2 linked regions of the Homo sapiens genome follow. The protein of the gene in region 1 purifies or fractionates together with the protein of each later gene. This does not show direct contact. Each region holds a gene or a part of one and is shown on either strand. Other genes may lie near its edges.

What was found.
Region 2: the proteins of NBAS (region 1) and SLC2A12 purify together in Homo sapiens (co-immunoprecipitation; one large-scale study listed by IntAct). This does not show direct contact.

What each region holds. Positions count from the first base shown.
Region 1 is NC_000002.12:15,554,626-15,558,451, forward strand, and holds part of NBAS (NBAS subunit of NRZ tethering complex), read right to left. Parts: intron 2,195-3,826; coding exon 2,158-2,194; intron 1-2,157. UniProt on the Homo sapiens protein: Involved in Golgi-to-endoplasmic reticulum (ER) retrograde transport; the function is proposed to depend on its association in the NRZ complex which is believed to play a role in SNARE assembly at the ER. Required for normal embryonic development.
Region 2 is NC_000006.12:134,046,120-134,049,945, forward strand, and holds part of SLC2A12 (solute carrier family 2, facilitated glucose transporter member 12), read right to left. Parts: intron 1-3,826. UniProt on the Homo sapiens protein: Insulin-independent facilitative glucose transporter.

The sequences.
Region 1 (3,826 bases):
AAATGAGCTACTGAACCAAAGAGAGGACAGGAGTTGGAAGTGAGACTCCTGCAAAGGCCAGGATGCTCAAATGACTGCACCAGGTCATTGAAAGAACTAGAAACACCTCACCATAGGCCCAGGGAGACTAAAGACTCTCTTCTCTCCCTGGAACTATGGTTCTGTGGAGGATAAGAATAAAATCTCCTATGAAAAAGTAAAAGTCCAAGTCTGTACTATATGTAAGATCAGATTACAATTTCACTTTACTCATGTGATGCAAGAATCTGCAAGCATAAGTTCAAAATAAAACCATTCACAAAAGACACGAAACTACTCATCATAAGTGAGTAAGCAGACACAGCAAATTAGAGGATTAATACCCGAAGAAATCAAGAAAACAGATGGAAAAGAAGAATAAAGAACATAATTTCATGAAATAGAAAAAAAATAAATTATGGAAATCAGAAAACACAAAATAGGATTCCAAAATGTTAGTGGCCAGGCACAATGGTATGTGCCTATAGTCGCAGCTACACGGGAGGCTAAGGCAGGAGGATTGCTTGAGCACAGGAGTTTAAAGCTACAGTGTACCATGATCTTGCCTGTGAATAGCCACTATACTCCAGCCTGACCAACACAATAAGACCCTCTCTTAAAAAAAAAAAAAAAATTAGTAATATACATGTAGTACATTTACGCTCATTTTTTAAAACACAAAATAATATCAAAAGACAGTTACAAAAATATAATGAAGATACAAAACATGTATGTGAATACTACCTATATGAGGATGATAATTTCCTCTAGAAGGGAAGGGAAAAGAAAAAGGGAAAGGACTTGAGATGTAACATTTTGCATAAAAACAAAAAGAGCTAGCTGATACAGGTTTATTATATTGTCAATAATTCTCAGTATGTTTATATTTCATAATTAAAAGAACTTTTTTAAAAAAAGAAGAAAAAGTCACTTGAAACAAATACTGACCCCAAAACCTTTGGGTTTAATTACCATAAACTCAAGAGCACAAATTGAACTATAATCTTTTTGAAAGCAGCATATCATGAGACAGATGAATCACTTAATGGTGCATTTGCAACCTGTACAATGATTCAAGGAAAAAGGCTTCTCAGGAGGAAGGGAGACAAAAAGATACCTACTTCTGATGCCTGATCATAAGGTTCTCACACAGAGGACAGGGCTTGTAGCAGAGTTAACTTTTTGAGTCTTCCTTCTCAATAAATAAAAAAAAGAATTATCAAGCAGCAACCTGAACAAGACAAGCTTGACACCTCATCCAAGGGTGTTCAGGACTAACAAGCTGTCGCCTAGAGAAGTCAGAAAACACAGCCCACCTCCCACACTCCTATCCTCTCCTTCCACTCTCTCTTCCTACTCATTGCTCTATCCTATCATATCCCACACCCACAAAAAAAGTGACACAATTAAGTATAGAAATTGTAAATATGCATACATATATACATGTATGCACATACACACACACATACATAGAGTAAAAGCAGAAAGACGTTGGAGCAAGTCCTAGAGAACGCCAAAGGTCTCTTTTATGGAACTATATTATCTCTGGAACTTTACGACAAGATATCCTCAACGAAGAAGCAATCTATGTAAATAATTCTATAAAACAATTCCTACACATGTATCTAAAAGCAGAATTATAACTTTTTTGTCATAATAATAATTTCTTTGTTCTTTCTAAAGCTGGAAATTAGCATCATCCCTGCAAATATACTTAACACTCAAGGAATTAAAAAATATACAAGAACTGAAACCTAAAGAACCTTCTCTGATATACAGCAGTTGAATATTAACCACAAGTGAGATGACATGACAAGAACAAAAATGTATTTTAAAAGATATGCAGGCTACAGATGCTTCATATGGACATTCAAGATAAGCCTGAGAATAGTCATCAGAGGAAGCAGAAATTGTCATGAGACATTCTTAATAGTAACTAAGGGAACAAAAACTACCCTAAGTCTACTGAGATATCTTGTCAGATTCTACCTAAATGTTTGAAATGTCTCATACTGAGTTTGCCTGAATGTCAGCAACTTTATCATGATCTAGAATTCAATTATGAAAACAAATCATATATAGAACAATATTGTTTATATTTGATGTTCATACTGTTTCTCTGAAGAACCGAAGACTCACCTGTACCAGATGTATTGGCGTAAAAATAATAAACGATCTGTAATCAAAAGAAATGGCAAAGCCAAATATAAATCAGCTGTTAAGAATCATTTTCAAATTAGATTTATAGATGAGAAATCTAAAATATACTACAGAGCGAGTCATTAAAAAAAATAAAGAACTCAAGTCTTAAAATGAGAGACTAAATATAACCTAATATACACTGTAACATTTACAGGGTCATATACTTATTAAATTCCATGTTTGTGTGTTATTCAAAAGTTTCAAGTATTTCCTAACTGTTCAAGAAATAAAAGCAGTTTGAGATGTTAAATTTAATCTAAGAAGCTTTCATGAAACCATGGACTAGAAGTTATAATAATCACCCCTTAGAAACCAAAATATTTGTATAAAAAATTAAAGCAAGATATATTTTACACTTTATAGCAAAGATTTTTAAAACAGTAATACCTAAAATGGGAAAGCCCACGGAAAACAAAACCTCTAACACGCTATAAAAAACAATGCTTTCTATCATCCTAAATGTACATGTATGTGTGTACCTGTGTATGCAGTTAGGTATATATCAATGGAAAAATATCTAAAGAATAACAGATTCTCTCTAGGTGGTATGAGGACAAATTTTTTTCTAATTTGTAGTTATCTATAGTGTCTGTATTTTCTACAATGAATTTTTATTATTTGTACACATTTTCTAAATTCTCAAAATTTAAAAGCATTTGTCATTATGAAAACTGAATATGCTAGTGCTTCTTGTATCAGAAGATAAAATTAACTATAATTAACTGTAATTTTATCAGAAGATAAAAGGATAATCAGAAGATTACAGTTAATTTCAAGTACTTAACTTCTGTGAAAATGAATTTTCTCTTTATAAGGAACTTAAATTCACTGGTATAAGGATGGACTTTGAAGCCAGAAAGACATGCAGTCAAATTCCAAATGAATGACCTTGAGCAAGTTTTCTTATCTAAAATCATAAAGGAGTAACGGCACCTTTCTGGTCTGATAAAAGGACTCTATTAATGAATATGGTAAACCCGTCATGGCACCAGCTCAGTAAACCTAGTGCTCAATCCTTTCTCAGACTCTTGTTAGTTCATACGTAAAATTTGTCAGGAGTTAAATGAATACCCTGGCTTATCAAATCTGTAATTTGAGTATCTCTGACCAGATCTATCTGAAACACCACATAGACCTCTTAAAATAGTCTCTCAGTGTATTTTCACCTTCAACATCCACTGACTTTCTGAGACTCATACTGGCTTTGACCTTCATTCCTTCTAGAACAGCGTCCCCCAACCTTTTTGGCACCAGGGACTGGTTTTGTGGAAGACAATTTTTCCATGCAACCTAGATCCCTCACACGTGCAGTTCACAATAGGGTTTGCACTTCCCTGATAATCTAATGCTGCCGCTTATCTGACAGGAAGTGGAGCTCAGGTGGTAATGCTCACTCACCCATCGCTCACCTCCTGCTATGCAGCCTGTTTCCTAACAGACCACAGACTGGTACCAGTCCATGGCCCAGGAATTGAGGACACCTGTTCTAGAATACATCCATAATGGTTAAACCAAAGCTATATACTTTAGCTCTAAGCTGCATTAGAGCTAAAAACGTGCATGCGTAAATATACAAATGTATACATATACATACATATGTGTGTAT
Region 2 (3,826 bases), on another chromosome or scaffold:
ATGGTTTTTTAATTAGTATTACTCATAACTCCCAACTCTAACTTCCATAAAGTGTGGAAATGTGTGTGGGAGCAAGACATTTTGTATAAAATAATAATGGGCACTGCTAACAGCTCCAGAGCCCAGTGATGCCAGGCAGACCTGAGTCATGAGTTGTCTGAGAAGCAGCTACTTCCAAGGCAATCACAATTTAACAGTTTAAAATTAAATTACACTTGCTTTACTTAAAAAATATATTCCTAAAAGTCAAACAAGAATTGCATTTTTCTCCGTGGAATTTTGGCAAAACAGTATAAAATAAATCATTGTTCAAAAATAATGAAATCTCCTAAAACTAGAATGATGTAATAAATTATTTTAGTCTTACTATTATTTCTACTAAGTTGTTTAGAATAATTAGGTGGGCAGCGGTGCCTCACGCCTATAATCCCAGCACTTTGGGAGGCTGAGGCGGGTGAATTGCTTGAGGCCAGGAGTTCGAGACCAGCCTGGGCAACATGGTGAAACCGTCTCTACTAAAAAAAAATATATATATACAAAAATTAGCCGGGTGTGGTGGTGAGTGCCTGTAATCCCAGCTTCTTGGGTGGCTGAGGCACGAAAACTGCTTGAACCCAGGAGGTGGAGGTTGCGGTGAGCTGAGGCTATACTCCAGCCTGGATGACAGAGCAAAACTCTGTCTTACATTTTTAAAAAGAATGATTAGTATTACTGGGGCATAGTCATTTAGCAAATGCATAAAATAAGTGTGCTACAACATGGGAAGAAAAATGATACCAGTGTGCAAAGGCAAAACAAAATAATACAGAAAAAAAATTTGAATTTATGATTTACTCTAAAGGTAATATATTTGACTCAGTTTCAGCTGGGAAGTATTTTGGGGGATGTCACGTTCAGTGACATTAACTGATATTGAGTACTTTTGAAGGGAAGAAGGGATGAAAAATCATCCGCATTTGATATTTGGTCAAATAGCCTCTTGGGAAGGAGCCAATTCCAACTTTTCCTTTCTCATCACCATAACTTGGTATCTTTTAAGTGGCTTCCATTGCATTAATTTTTTCAATAACTCATCCTTCTGGGGGAGACTGTTCATGAGAAAAAATACTGAATGAAGGAGCTCTGACTCTATTCAATTTTAAAATCTTATATAACCCGTTCTTGCTCATACACTGAGTAAATAGCTGTTTCAACTGTTGCATAGTAATGGAGGGCCCTTTAGAGCTCTCAGAACTTTTTTAACCCAAAGGCTAGATAGTACCGAGAAAATGCTCCCTATGAAACCGTGATTCTAAAATGAACTATTCTTGAATGAATAATAAAATCCTACATACCTACAGCAATTAAAAATTGCAATTTCAAGTTGGTGGATTCATCTTTTATCTACACATGCAAATCTCAGCTTCCTTCGGCTGCTCCAAGGTAGATTCAGTGTATTTTGAGTTCTGTCTCTACCAACTAGTGTAAGCTCTAGACCACTAAAGACCACCCTCTTGAGAATTCACAGGAAAGATACCCTGTGGGCTCATATTCAGGTCCTATCAGCTACCACCAGGCCTATTCCTGGGCTCTCAGCTGCTTCAGCAACTGTTGGTAATCTGACAGAGAGAACGGTGATGTTGAGAATATTTAACAACTAGGACAGAGGCACCGACCTATCAGAATGGCTGTAAAAACTGGTTCAGGCATGCTGGTGTGCACCAGCTAATCTCAGCCTGCTCAGATGGGCCCAACCTCTTGGCCGGCTGCTCTCAGGCTGGCTTGGTCTGGCTCTGCCAGGCCCTGGCAGGGCAGGCTTCCTGCAGCGTGTGTCTGCTGCTGCTTCAGAGCCTGGGAGGGGGTCTGTGGCAACCTCTCTGCTCTCTCTGGGTGACACATCCTTAGAGAGGAGCAAGACCACTGCCGCGTACGATGCATAGCACCCAGAGTTTGCAGAGAAACATCTCCCACCATGTTCGCAGCCTTTTCCCTTCCCAAGAGATCCCAGAGGAGCCATTTGCCCAGTGCTCACAGTGGTGAAAAGCCTCAAATCTAGACTTTTGATGTGATTTCCAAGTGAGGTTAAATGTACAGTCACAGAGATACGCTGACTGGACTGAAAGGGGAGATATTTATGTTTAAATCTGGTCTCATGACCACACAGAAGAGCAAGTGGTCCTCCATAAATGAACACGTCTAAAAATCCTGTCATTTCCAGCCAGGCACTGTGGATCACACCCGTAATCCCAGCAGTTTGGGAGGCCAAGGTAGGCGGATCACCTGAGGTTAGGAGTTGGAGACCAGCCTGGCCAGCATGGTAAAACCCCATCTCTACTAAAAATACAAAAATTAGCCAGCTGCTCAGGATGCTGAGGCACAAAAATCACTTGAAACTGGGAGGCAGAGGTTGCAGTGAGCCAAGATCGCGCCATCTTACTCCAGCCTAGGTGACAGAGCGAGACTTCATCTCAGAAAAAACAAAACAACAACAACAAAAAAACCTGTTATTTCCTTGGAAATACGTATCACAGTAGACACAATCATTGTTATCAGATGTTGACTTGTTAAATACATATGTTTTTAAAGCACTATAATTTTTGTCACGGGTTTTGATGCTTAATTGTTTTTAATATATAGAAAGTGTGGAAAAATGGGAATGGCCCAGCATCAAAAACTCTGAGATGCCTGGGTCTGCCCAAGGTAACTGGCCTCTTACTAGAATCTGTCTTCTCACAACCAAAGCTCTGACATCTGCCCAAGCTGGTTGGCCTGACTCCCTCTTCCCTAAGGATGAGTTTGTTTCCAAGTCTCCGTCTCTTTTACAAGTTGACTTCCCCTAGAGCTGACTGACGAAGCCTGAGAAAGCCAGGCCTGACGAAATTCCAGGGGGCCCATTTTAAGCTAAACCCGGGAGAACAGCACTCAGTAGGAACTTAGTTACAGTTACATCTTACATACTCACCACCTGCCCAGCTTCCATTTAGGAAAAAGGAGTTCACAGCTTTAAAAGCGTTTTGAGAACAACTGCCTTAGAATGTTCATCTGCTGAGCAGAAGCGTGTATTTCTTAAATTCCAGACTGTGGCATCTTCAGAGGGGATAAAGGACAGTCCTTTCAGCTGAGTTCGTGAGTCCCGTTCTTCATGTTCTGGGTCCCAGTGCCAGAGAGTTCTGCAGTGCTGACAACCTGCACTCATACAGTAAATATTGTTCTTGTTTTCTGAACCTTTGGACAGTTGGGGGTGAAGGGAAACTTAAGAGGACTCTGTCCCCAGCCAATTGTTTGGATCATGAAATAAAGGAAGCCTGGGAGCTGAAGTAGAAGTCAGTATTGAATCTCCTGGGCCAGAGGCCACCAGGGTCAGTTCTGCACCATCCTCTGTGTGACCGTGGGCCGATCACACATCTTTTGACCTCAGATTTCCCTTGTGTGAGTTGCTCCATCCGTCTAATATCTCACTTCATTTATATCTGTTGTCAACTCTAGGCACCAGAATTTCAAACTGAGCTTAATCCTGTCCTATATTAAGATGGATTGGAACATGTCCATGAAAGCTGAAAAAATTTACTAAAAATGTAACCACTTTGAGTCATAGCTTATTGAAAATGAATTAAGTTCATTAGCTTCTAGTCATTGGAACAAAGCATTCTTTTCAGTTAAAGAGGGTTAGTCAAGAAAGACCTACCAAAATTTTTCACTGTGCACAATAGCATCAAGGGAGTTCAACTGCAGACCTTAGGGGGTTGGTTTTGTTTTGTTTTTCAGTATCTCACATGATTTAATTACCTTGTCCTGAGTTATATAACTCATTCCTCTTTGTGCTTTGATTTTTCCATCTAGGAATGTA